Homo sapiens: one gene and its partner. The protein of the gene in region 1 purifies or fractionates together with the protein of each later gene. This does not show direct contact. Each region holds a gene or a part of one and is shown on either strand. Other genes may lie near its edges. The genes, in order: TRAM1 and HM13.

The links.
Region 2: the proteins of TRAM1 (region 1) and HM13 purify together in Homo sapiens (affinity purification with western blotting, with the first as the bait; one study listed by BioGRID). This does not show direct contact.

Annotation. Positions count from the first base shown.
Region 1 is NC_000008.11:70,605,528-70,609,921, forward strand, and holds the start of TRAM1 (translocating chain-associated membrane protein 1), read right to left. Parts: upstream 2,890-4,394; 5' UTR 2,673-2,889; coding exon 2,550-2,672; intron 2,143-2,549; exon of another isoform or gene 1,350-2,142; intron 1-1,349. UniProt on the Homo sapiens protein: Involved in the translocation of nascent protein chains into or through the endoplasmic reticulum (ER) membrane by facilitating the proper chain positioning at the SEC61 channel.
Region 2 is NC_000020.11:31,545,400-31,549,208, forward strand, and holds part of HM13 (signal peptide peptidase), read left to right. Parts: intron 1-1,979; exon of another isoform or gene 1,980-2,104; coding exon of another isoform or gene 2,105-2,650; exon of another isoform or gene 2,651-2,682; intron 2,683-3,629; coding exon 3,630-3,715; intron 3,716-3,807; coding exon 3,808-3,809. Other genes in the region: MCTS2 (malignant T-cell-amplified sequence 2), read left to right, coding at 2,105-2,650. UniProt on the Homo sapiens protein: Catalyzes intramembrane proteolysis of signal peptides that have been removed from precursors of secretory and membrane proteins, resulting in the release of the fragment from the ER membrane into the cytoplasm.

The DNA of each region.
Region 1 (4,394 bases):
CAGTTCTGCAAAAAAAAATCAATTTCTCTATTATTCTAGCACAAGTACTGTAATTCTATAATTATGTTAACTTTGAGATTCAGCAGCAATTGTTTTAAAAGTCGAATAGCAAAACTAACCTAGTCTACAAAGTCCTATATATAGATAACATGCTTTGAAATCCTAACACCTTAATATATGGTAAGAAAAAGGAAGAACTCGCACAAACTTCACTTTTGTGTATCACTTTAACACTCACTTTTGAATTGACTTAAAAACCTCTATTTAGTATTTTTGTCTATTTAGATTTTCAAATTTTATAAATTTATATAAAGGTGAAAATCCACTGTTTAAAAAAATCACTAACATGTGAGGCAAGGTATAGGTGGTGGACTTCCCTAGAAATATAGTAAGAGAATGTAAAATAGTTTATATAAAATCAAAGTTATACTATGTGTCAGAATTTCTGATTTATATTTCATTTCATTCAAAGCACTGCAAATATACCTTGCAGGTCACAGTACCCCTAAAATATGTTTTTAAAGTCAGGAATTCTTACCATGTGGAGATGGTTTATGACAAGTTACAGAAAATTGAATATACTACATATATTAAAGTACTACTTTAAGGTCAAAGCAGAAAGTACATGCAAGTATCAAATTCAGAAAGTGAATACAAATGTTTAACATTGGGTTTTTTTTGAGACAGGGTCTTCTTGCTCTGTCCTTCAGGCTGGAGTGCAGTGGTGAAACCTTGGCTCACCGCAGCCTCCACCTCCTGGGCTCAAGTAATTATCCCACCTCAGCCGCCCAGCTGAGACCACAGGTGCGTGCTATCTATCACTCCTGGCTAATTTTTAAAAAATCATTTGTAGAGACAGGGTCTCCCTATGTTGCCTAGGCTGGTCTCGAACTCCTGGGCTCCAGTGATTCTCCTGCCTTGGCCTCCCAAAGTGTTGGGATGTTTACAGGCATAAGCCAGAGCACCAGGCCTAGCACTGTATTTACCTTCACACCATATCATCTGATACTTGCAAAAAATGGCTGTGAGGAGAACAGTACAGGTGATATTATTTCCTGATAAAGAGCAGAAAAATTGAGGCTCAGACTTGGGTCACCCAGTAGGTAGGTGGCACAGCCCAGACTTAAAGCTTGAGAATGTTAGTTTCCTTCTACCTACCCTTTAACTATACCTGCTACCTCCTTAGCAGTGGTTTCAAACATGCATGACACAATCAGGAGTAAATAATATCTGTATCTAGATCCAGAAAAGCCCATTTGATGAGAGGCGAAAATAAGGTTAAAATATTATTTAATTTTAAAATTAAAAAAAAAAACAAATATGCTCCATTAAAAAGAAAATGTATTCACCTTTTGGTCACTGGTAATATCATTCCATTAGGTTTTCTCAAGGATTCTTAACGTCGCTCATCTTTTTTTAAGCACTCCTATGTCCCAGGCACTATCCTAGACTCTGGAAATACAGACTCGTAAAAATACTCCAAAATCTCTACTCTCACTTGTTACATGCAGGAGAGAGGAGACAAAACAAGGCAGGAGCAAAATAATTTGTATATTTACTGAGACATAAAGGCTCCAGAGAAAAATTAAAAAGGGAAAAAAGCAAAGGAATGAGCGTGTGTATTGGGGAGCGAGGGGAAAAACGTAGGATGTTACTCGTTCACCTTGCAAAGTTTATCATCCACATTCAACAGCTGTTAAATAAGTCATCAAAATACTAGATACGTGGGAAGAGAATTTACACACTCCTGACATTCCCATCCTCTCCTACTTCAAGAAACAAAATTACTCGATTCCTTGGCACCGCTGTTCAGAACCTCGATTTATCCATCAGACCTTGTTTCTTTAAAGCGTCAGGGCAAAAAGTTCGTTAACTGGTAATAATATCAGTTTAAAAGACAAAAATGAAAACAATCTGGCGCGCCTCCACTGCGCCGGTGCCCGGCGGCCACCGCCCTTCAAGTCGAAAGCAGATGCCTGACTCCGGTTTCTCGCTCACCCCAATCTCGGAGCTACCGGGGGCTCCCCTGTCACTCGGGGCCTGTGGTCTCCAGGCCGGCACTCCTCAGACCCGGGGGCCGGGCCTCGGCCTTCCCCGGCCCTCGCGGGGCTGACGCTCACCGCGGCCGAGGCTGGCAGTCCCCCCAAGTCCGCCCACCCGCCCCGAGCCAGCTCGGCAGCGCAGGGGCCGCCCCCGCCCGCAGGCCCCTCGCCGGCTGCCACGTAACCCTTCGCGGGAACCAGGAACTGCGCCGCGCAGCCTGCGGGAGGGGGCGGCGGCGGGTCAGGAAGGGGGCGACGCGGCGGTCCCCACCCCCTGCGGGCCGCGATGAGGCCCACCGGGACTTTGCATCTCCGGGCCGGCCGCCGGGGAGCTGCCGCCGACGTGGGGCAGGGCAGGGAAGGCCTGCACCTCAGGGACTGGGGGTCTGCACCCACCCCGGGCCCGAGCCCCCCGCGTCCTGGGCGGAGAAGCCGGGGCTGGCATCTGGAGCCCGGGCCCGGGCTGGAGGTGGCGGGGCAGGCGGTTGGGACTCGGGGCGGGCTCACCTCAAACATGAGCCCCAGCAGGAAGACCATCGCCACACAGGAGACGATGTCCGCGTGATTCTGCAGGACGAATTCGTGGCTCAGCACTGGGGGGCTCTTGGTGCTTTTCTTGCGAATCGCCATGGTGGGGCCGCCGCCCGCGCCTGCAGGTGCTCCGCCCCGGTTCTGCTCTTCCCAGCTGCTCACCGACTCGCCGCCGCCTCCCGCTGGCTGCTCCTCACGGCCCCGCTGCAGCCGCTCGCTGGGGCTTCACTTCCCATCCCACAGCCAGTACGCAGCCGCCGGGCCGCCCGGGGGAAAAAAAAAAACACAACAGCTAGCCCGCAGCGGGGGCGAGCATGCGCACCAGGGAGACGACGCTCCCTGGTGCCGCGGCCGCCTCCGCGAGCCCACAGCGCCACCTGGGGACCGGAGGCCGCTGGCCCGCGGCCGGGCGAGCGTGCAGGAATGTGAGCGGCGCTTCCCTGCTTCGCGCCGGGCCCGGGTTTGGGAGTCGTTTGAGGCGCGAGCTTCCTGCGCCTGCTCAGCAGCCTGAGGCCGCGGCCGGGTGCCCTCCTGCCCTCCTGGCCATCCAGGGATTGGGTGTCAGTGGCCTGTTGCACATTGTCACTTCTACAAGTGACTAACACCGTCAGGATAATCTAAAACTACGAATACTACCTGACTCCACAAGGGTACGGTGTATTCTCCAGTTTTAGCATCTGCCTTAAAAATTACCTCAGAGTTAAGCACTGCTGGGGACTTATTTCTACTCTTGGTAAGTTTGGACTAACTTAAAAAAAAAAAAAGAGCTGACCCTATTCTGGTCTGCCTCTCCGTCCCCACCCCCATCCCCGTCCCCATCCCCACCCCTATCCCCCACTGGCCTCAGACTGAAGACGAAGGGATCAGTTTGGGTTTACTGGCTTCACATATATTCAAATTAACAACATGTTTTAGTAATCTAAGGGAAATAGTAAAAGAGTTAAAAAGGATCGTGGATTAAGACACGTCCTCCTCTTATCGTTTTGCCCAAACCTGGAGTCCTTTGTATTCTTTTTCCTGAAGAATTGCTCTCCTGTTTACCCATAAGCCAAATGTAGAAACCAAAGTCATGCTAGATTGAGCCCTTTCAGCGCCCTTCCACATCCAGTCATCACCAATTCGAGGCAGACCTATCACCCCGCTTCCCCACTACCGCAGTCCGAGGGTACTTGCCTCTTGCCTACAATATTACAACTCTGGTGTAACCACTTAGTGGTTTAAGAATGTGGGTTGTTAAATCAGAATTCTGCCACTTATTACTTGTACGATCAAGGACAAGTTACTTAATCTCTATGGGACCCGATTTCCTCATTTTTAAAAATGTATTCATTTATGTACTTACTGAGGGTTGACTGTGTCCTGGGCACTGGGGATACAGAACTGAAATACAAATTAAATTATTCCTAGGGACTTATCATTCTAGTGTGGGAGAGAATCTTTAAACAAGATTTCAAAAGCGAAACAGATGTTAAATTGAGTTGAGCAACCAGGAGAAAAATAAAGCAAGGGGAATAGGAAAGTGCGAGGCACTTATACTTGCCTGAAGACCTGCAGGAGGTGAGGGAGCAAGCCCTGTGGATATCATCTATAAAGTGGGGATAACTATTGCTCATTTTAGTGATTAAATGAGATGATTGAAGGAAACTGCTTAGCGGGGAGTAAGGGCTTTATAAATTTAGTCAGGGATTATTCTTTTCCTCCTTCTGGGCAATCACTAGTTTCATTTCCCTTCAGATCACCTTTCAACGTTTATACTAGAATGATGCTTCTACTGGCAGAAAGTTTTTCAGCGGGTTCCCTTTCCCTTCATGGAAAGCTAGC
Region 2 (3,809 bases), on another chromosome or scaffold:
TCGTATATATTTTTAGTGTGATCACTGCCTCACCTAAGGTTTGAAAAGGGGGTTCCACAGCTCTTTTTTCAAAAATAAAAACTGGCCAGAAACAGTGTCTCATGCCTGTAATCACAGCAATTTGGGAGGCCAAGACAGGATGATCACTTGAGGCCAGGAATTTGAGACCAGCCTAGGCAACATAGTGAGACCTCATCTCTACAAAAAAATTGTAAAAAAATGCAAACTATGGGGAAGTGTGGAGATCCTGGGATTTGTAGGTTAGTTAGGGTATGGATTCAAATGCTGTAACAAGATTATCAATGCTTGACCAAACAGCAGGTATTTCTTTGTTTTTTGTTTTTTGAGACAGAGTCTTGTTCTGTCACCCAGGGTGGAGTGCAGTGGTGCGATCTCAGCTCACTGAAACCTCAGCCAACTGAGTAATTGAGATTACAGGCGTGTGCTACCACACCCAGCTAATTTTTTTGTATTTTTAGTAGAGATGGAGTTTTGCCATGCTAGCCAGGCTGGTCTCAAACTCCTGACCTCAAGTGATCTGCCCACCTCAGCCTCCCAAAGCGCTAGAATTACAGGCGTGAGTGAGCCACCACGCCCAGCAGGTATTTCTCTTGTATACAATACTGAGCATGTGAAATCTAGCACTTTTTTTTTTTTTTTTTTTTTTCGAGACAGGGTCTCGCTCTGTCGCCCAGGCTGGAGTGCAGCGGCACAATCTTGGCTCACTGCAAGCTCCACCCCCTGGGTTCACGCCATTCTCCTGCCTCAGCCTCCCGAGTAGCTGGGACTACAGGCGCCCGCCACTACGCCCGGCTAATTTTTTTGTATTTTTAGTAGAGACGGGGTTTCACCGTGTTAGGATGGTCTCCATCCCCTGACCTCTTGATTCGCCTCCCAAAGTGCTAGGATTACAGGCGTGAGCCACCGCGCCCGGCCGTAGCACTCTCTCTTACTGGTGCCTAGCACATGCTGCCTTGTCCCTAATCGGCAGCAATTTTATGTGATTGCTTTGTGCATCTCTAAGGAACCTCTGTTAAACAATTGTTGATTTTTTTTTTTTAAAGACTGAGCTTGGGCCAGGTGAGATGGCTCACGCCTCCCAGCACTTTGGGAGGCTGAGGCAGGCGGATGACTTGAGATCAGGAGTTCCAGACCAGCCTGGCCATCACGGCGAAACCCCGTCTCTACTAAAAACACAAAAAAAATTAGCCAGGCATGGTGGCGTGTACCTGTAATCCTAGCTACTCGGGAGGCTGAGGCAGGAGAATCGCTTTAACCTGGGAAGGCGGAGGTTGCAGTGAGCCGAAATCGCGCCACTGCACTCCAGCCAGGGCGACAGAGTGAGACCCTGTCTCAAAAAAAAAAAAAAAAGACTAAGCTTGGCCAGGCGCGGTGGCTCATGCCTGTAATCCCAACACTTTGGGAGGCTGATGCAGGAGGGTCACTTGAGCCCTGGAGTTCGAGGCTGCAGTAAGCCACGGTCAGTGCACTCCAGCCTGGGCGACAGAGCAAGACCCCGTCTAAAAAAATAAATAAATAAAACAGTAAAAAGGCTAGGCTTATACCACAGTCTTCAAGGTCCCAGGCCCTCTCTATCTCATGCTCCGCCATATACAGCACTGGCCCTCGGGTCAGGATAGTGTCATCACTCCACTGTCCAGCCAGAAGGAAGGAGAGGCATCCATATTCCCTGTCCATTTAGCTATAAGAGAAGCTGGAAAATGGCCGTGAGTCGGTCTCGTGTCCAGTTAGAACTAACTCATCAGGGTGCGCATCTGCAGTCTTCTGTTCCGGCAAGGAGAAAGCATTCGTATCATTTCTAGCTTGTCAAGCCCTACTGTTTCAGCGATCCTCATTGGAGAGGAATCAGCAGTCGAAGGAACAGCGGGCCAAGCGCAGTCGTGACGTGGCGTTCAGAGAGCGGAAGTTGTCAGATTTCACCGGGCCGTAAAGCGCGCTGGCTGTGTCATCTTCCGGTTAGCGACAACGGCTCTGACCGTCTGGCAGGCCGCGTGGCGCCCGCGCCGGCCTTCCTGCAGGGGACTCCACCGGAGCCTTGCCAATTCCGTTTGTTTCCCTGTTGTCGCCCGCTTCACCCTGGATCATGTTCAAGAAGTTTGATGAAAAGGAAAGTGTGTCCAACTGCATCCAGTTGAAAACGTCAGTTATTAAGGGCATTAAGAGCCAACTGGTAGAGCAATTTCCAGGTATTGAACCATGGCTTAATCAAATCATGCCTAAGAAAGATCCTGTCAAAATAGTCCGATGCCACGAACATACAGAAATCCTTACCGTAAGTGGGGAATTATTGTTTTTTAGACAAAGAAAGGGGCCTTTTTGTCCAACTCTAAGGTTGCTTCACAAATACCCTTTTATCCTGCCACACCAGCAGGTTGATAAAGGAGCTATCAAATTTGTACTCAGTGGCGCAAATATTATGTGTCCAGGTTTAACTTCTCCTGGAGCTAAGCTGTACCCTGCTGCAGTAGATACGATTGTAGCAGTCACAGCGGAAGGAAAACAGCATGCTCTGTGTGTTGGGGTCATGAAGATGTCTGCAGAAGATATTGAGAAAGTCAACAAAGGAATTGGCATTGAAAATATCCATTATTTAAATGATGGGCTGTGGCACATGAAGACATATAAATGAGCCTCAGAAGGAATGCATTTGGGGGGCTAAATGTGGATATTGATTGTGTCGTATGTGTGTTTGTGTCTGTGTGTGACAGCGTGAATACAATGCCTCTGTGGTTATGCTAAATAAGTTTAACAGATACTTTATAGAAAACAAATCAGGGTGCTCTTACCACAGATGAAAAAACAAATTAGGGGACAAGCAGCAAGCAGTCTGCTAACACTCTGGAATGTGAAAGGAGTGTCTGGACTCTGTGACTCCCGGCAAACTCCACAGCCTCTAGTTGTCTTCTTAGGAAGCTTGGAAGCAATTGAGAATGGTCTAACATCAAGATGTCTACCACAGGGCCCCCCACAAAAGCAGCCTCGGGGACTCCGGCCTTTCCTTGAGACCTGCATCTCTTCCCTTCTTCATCGCCTGCTAGTGAACTGAGGCTGCCGCTAACCTTCTTCATCCTTTGGTGGCAAAGTAGAAAGATTCCAGAATTAACTCGACCTTTCTAAAGACCTGGGCTCAGAGGCAGCTGGCACTGACTGAGCACCCACTATGTGCCAGGCACTGTGCTGAATGCATTGTAAGGACTGTCTTACTTATTCCCCCACAGCAGCCCTAAGAAGGGGTGCTGTTATCCCCTTTTTACAGATAAGAAAACTGAAGCTCAGAGAGGGCACTGCCTTCCCCAAGGTCACCCAGCTACAAGTAACAAAGCCTGTGCTTCTAACACCAAAGACCACTTCCCGCTGACACTGTGCCAGGCTTGTAAGTCTCTCTCTGGGCCTCCATTCCCTCCTGTAGGAAATTGGAGGGGTTGGGGTGGCTCCAGTGAGCTCTCCCCTTCTGAAACTCATACTAATCTGGGGCAGCCAAGGCTTAGCCCCGCCAGCCTGTGAACCTCTCACAGTGCCCACAGCCATGCCCTCCTCCGTCCAGGGGCTGACAGGTGGGAGGGGTAGCCCTGCCTCAGGGAGTGGACTTACCTGGCCTCTCTGCTCAGAGATCATCAATTATGAATTTGACACCAAGGACCTGGTGTGCCTGGGCCTGAGCAGCATCGTTGGCGTCTGGTACCTGCTGAGGAAGGTGAGTAGTCAGGACCTGGGCAGAAGGGGAGGATGGGGTTGACAGGGCAGGGTGGGTCACAGCAAGCTGGTCTCACTCCCCGCTTTCCTCAGCA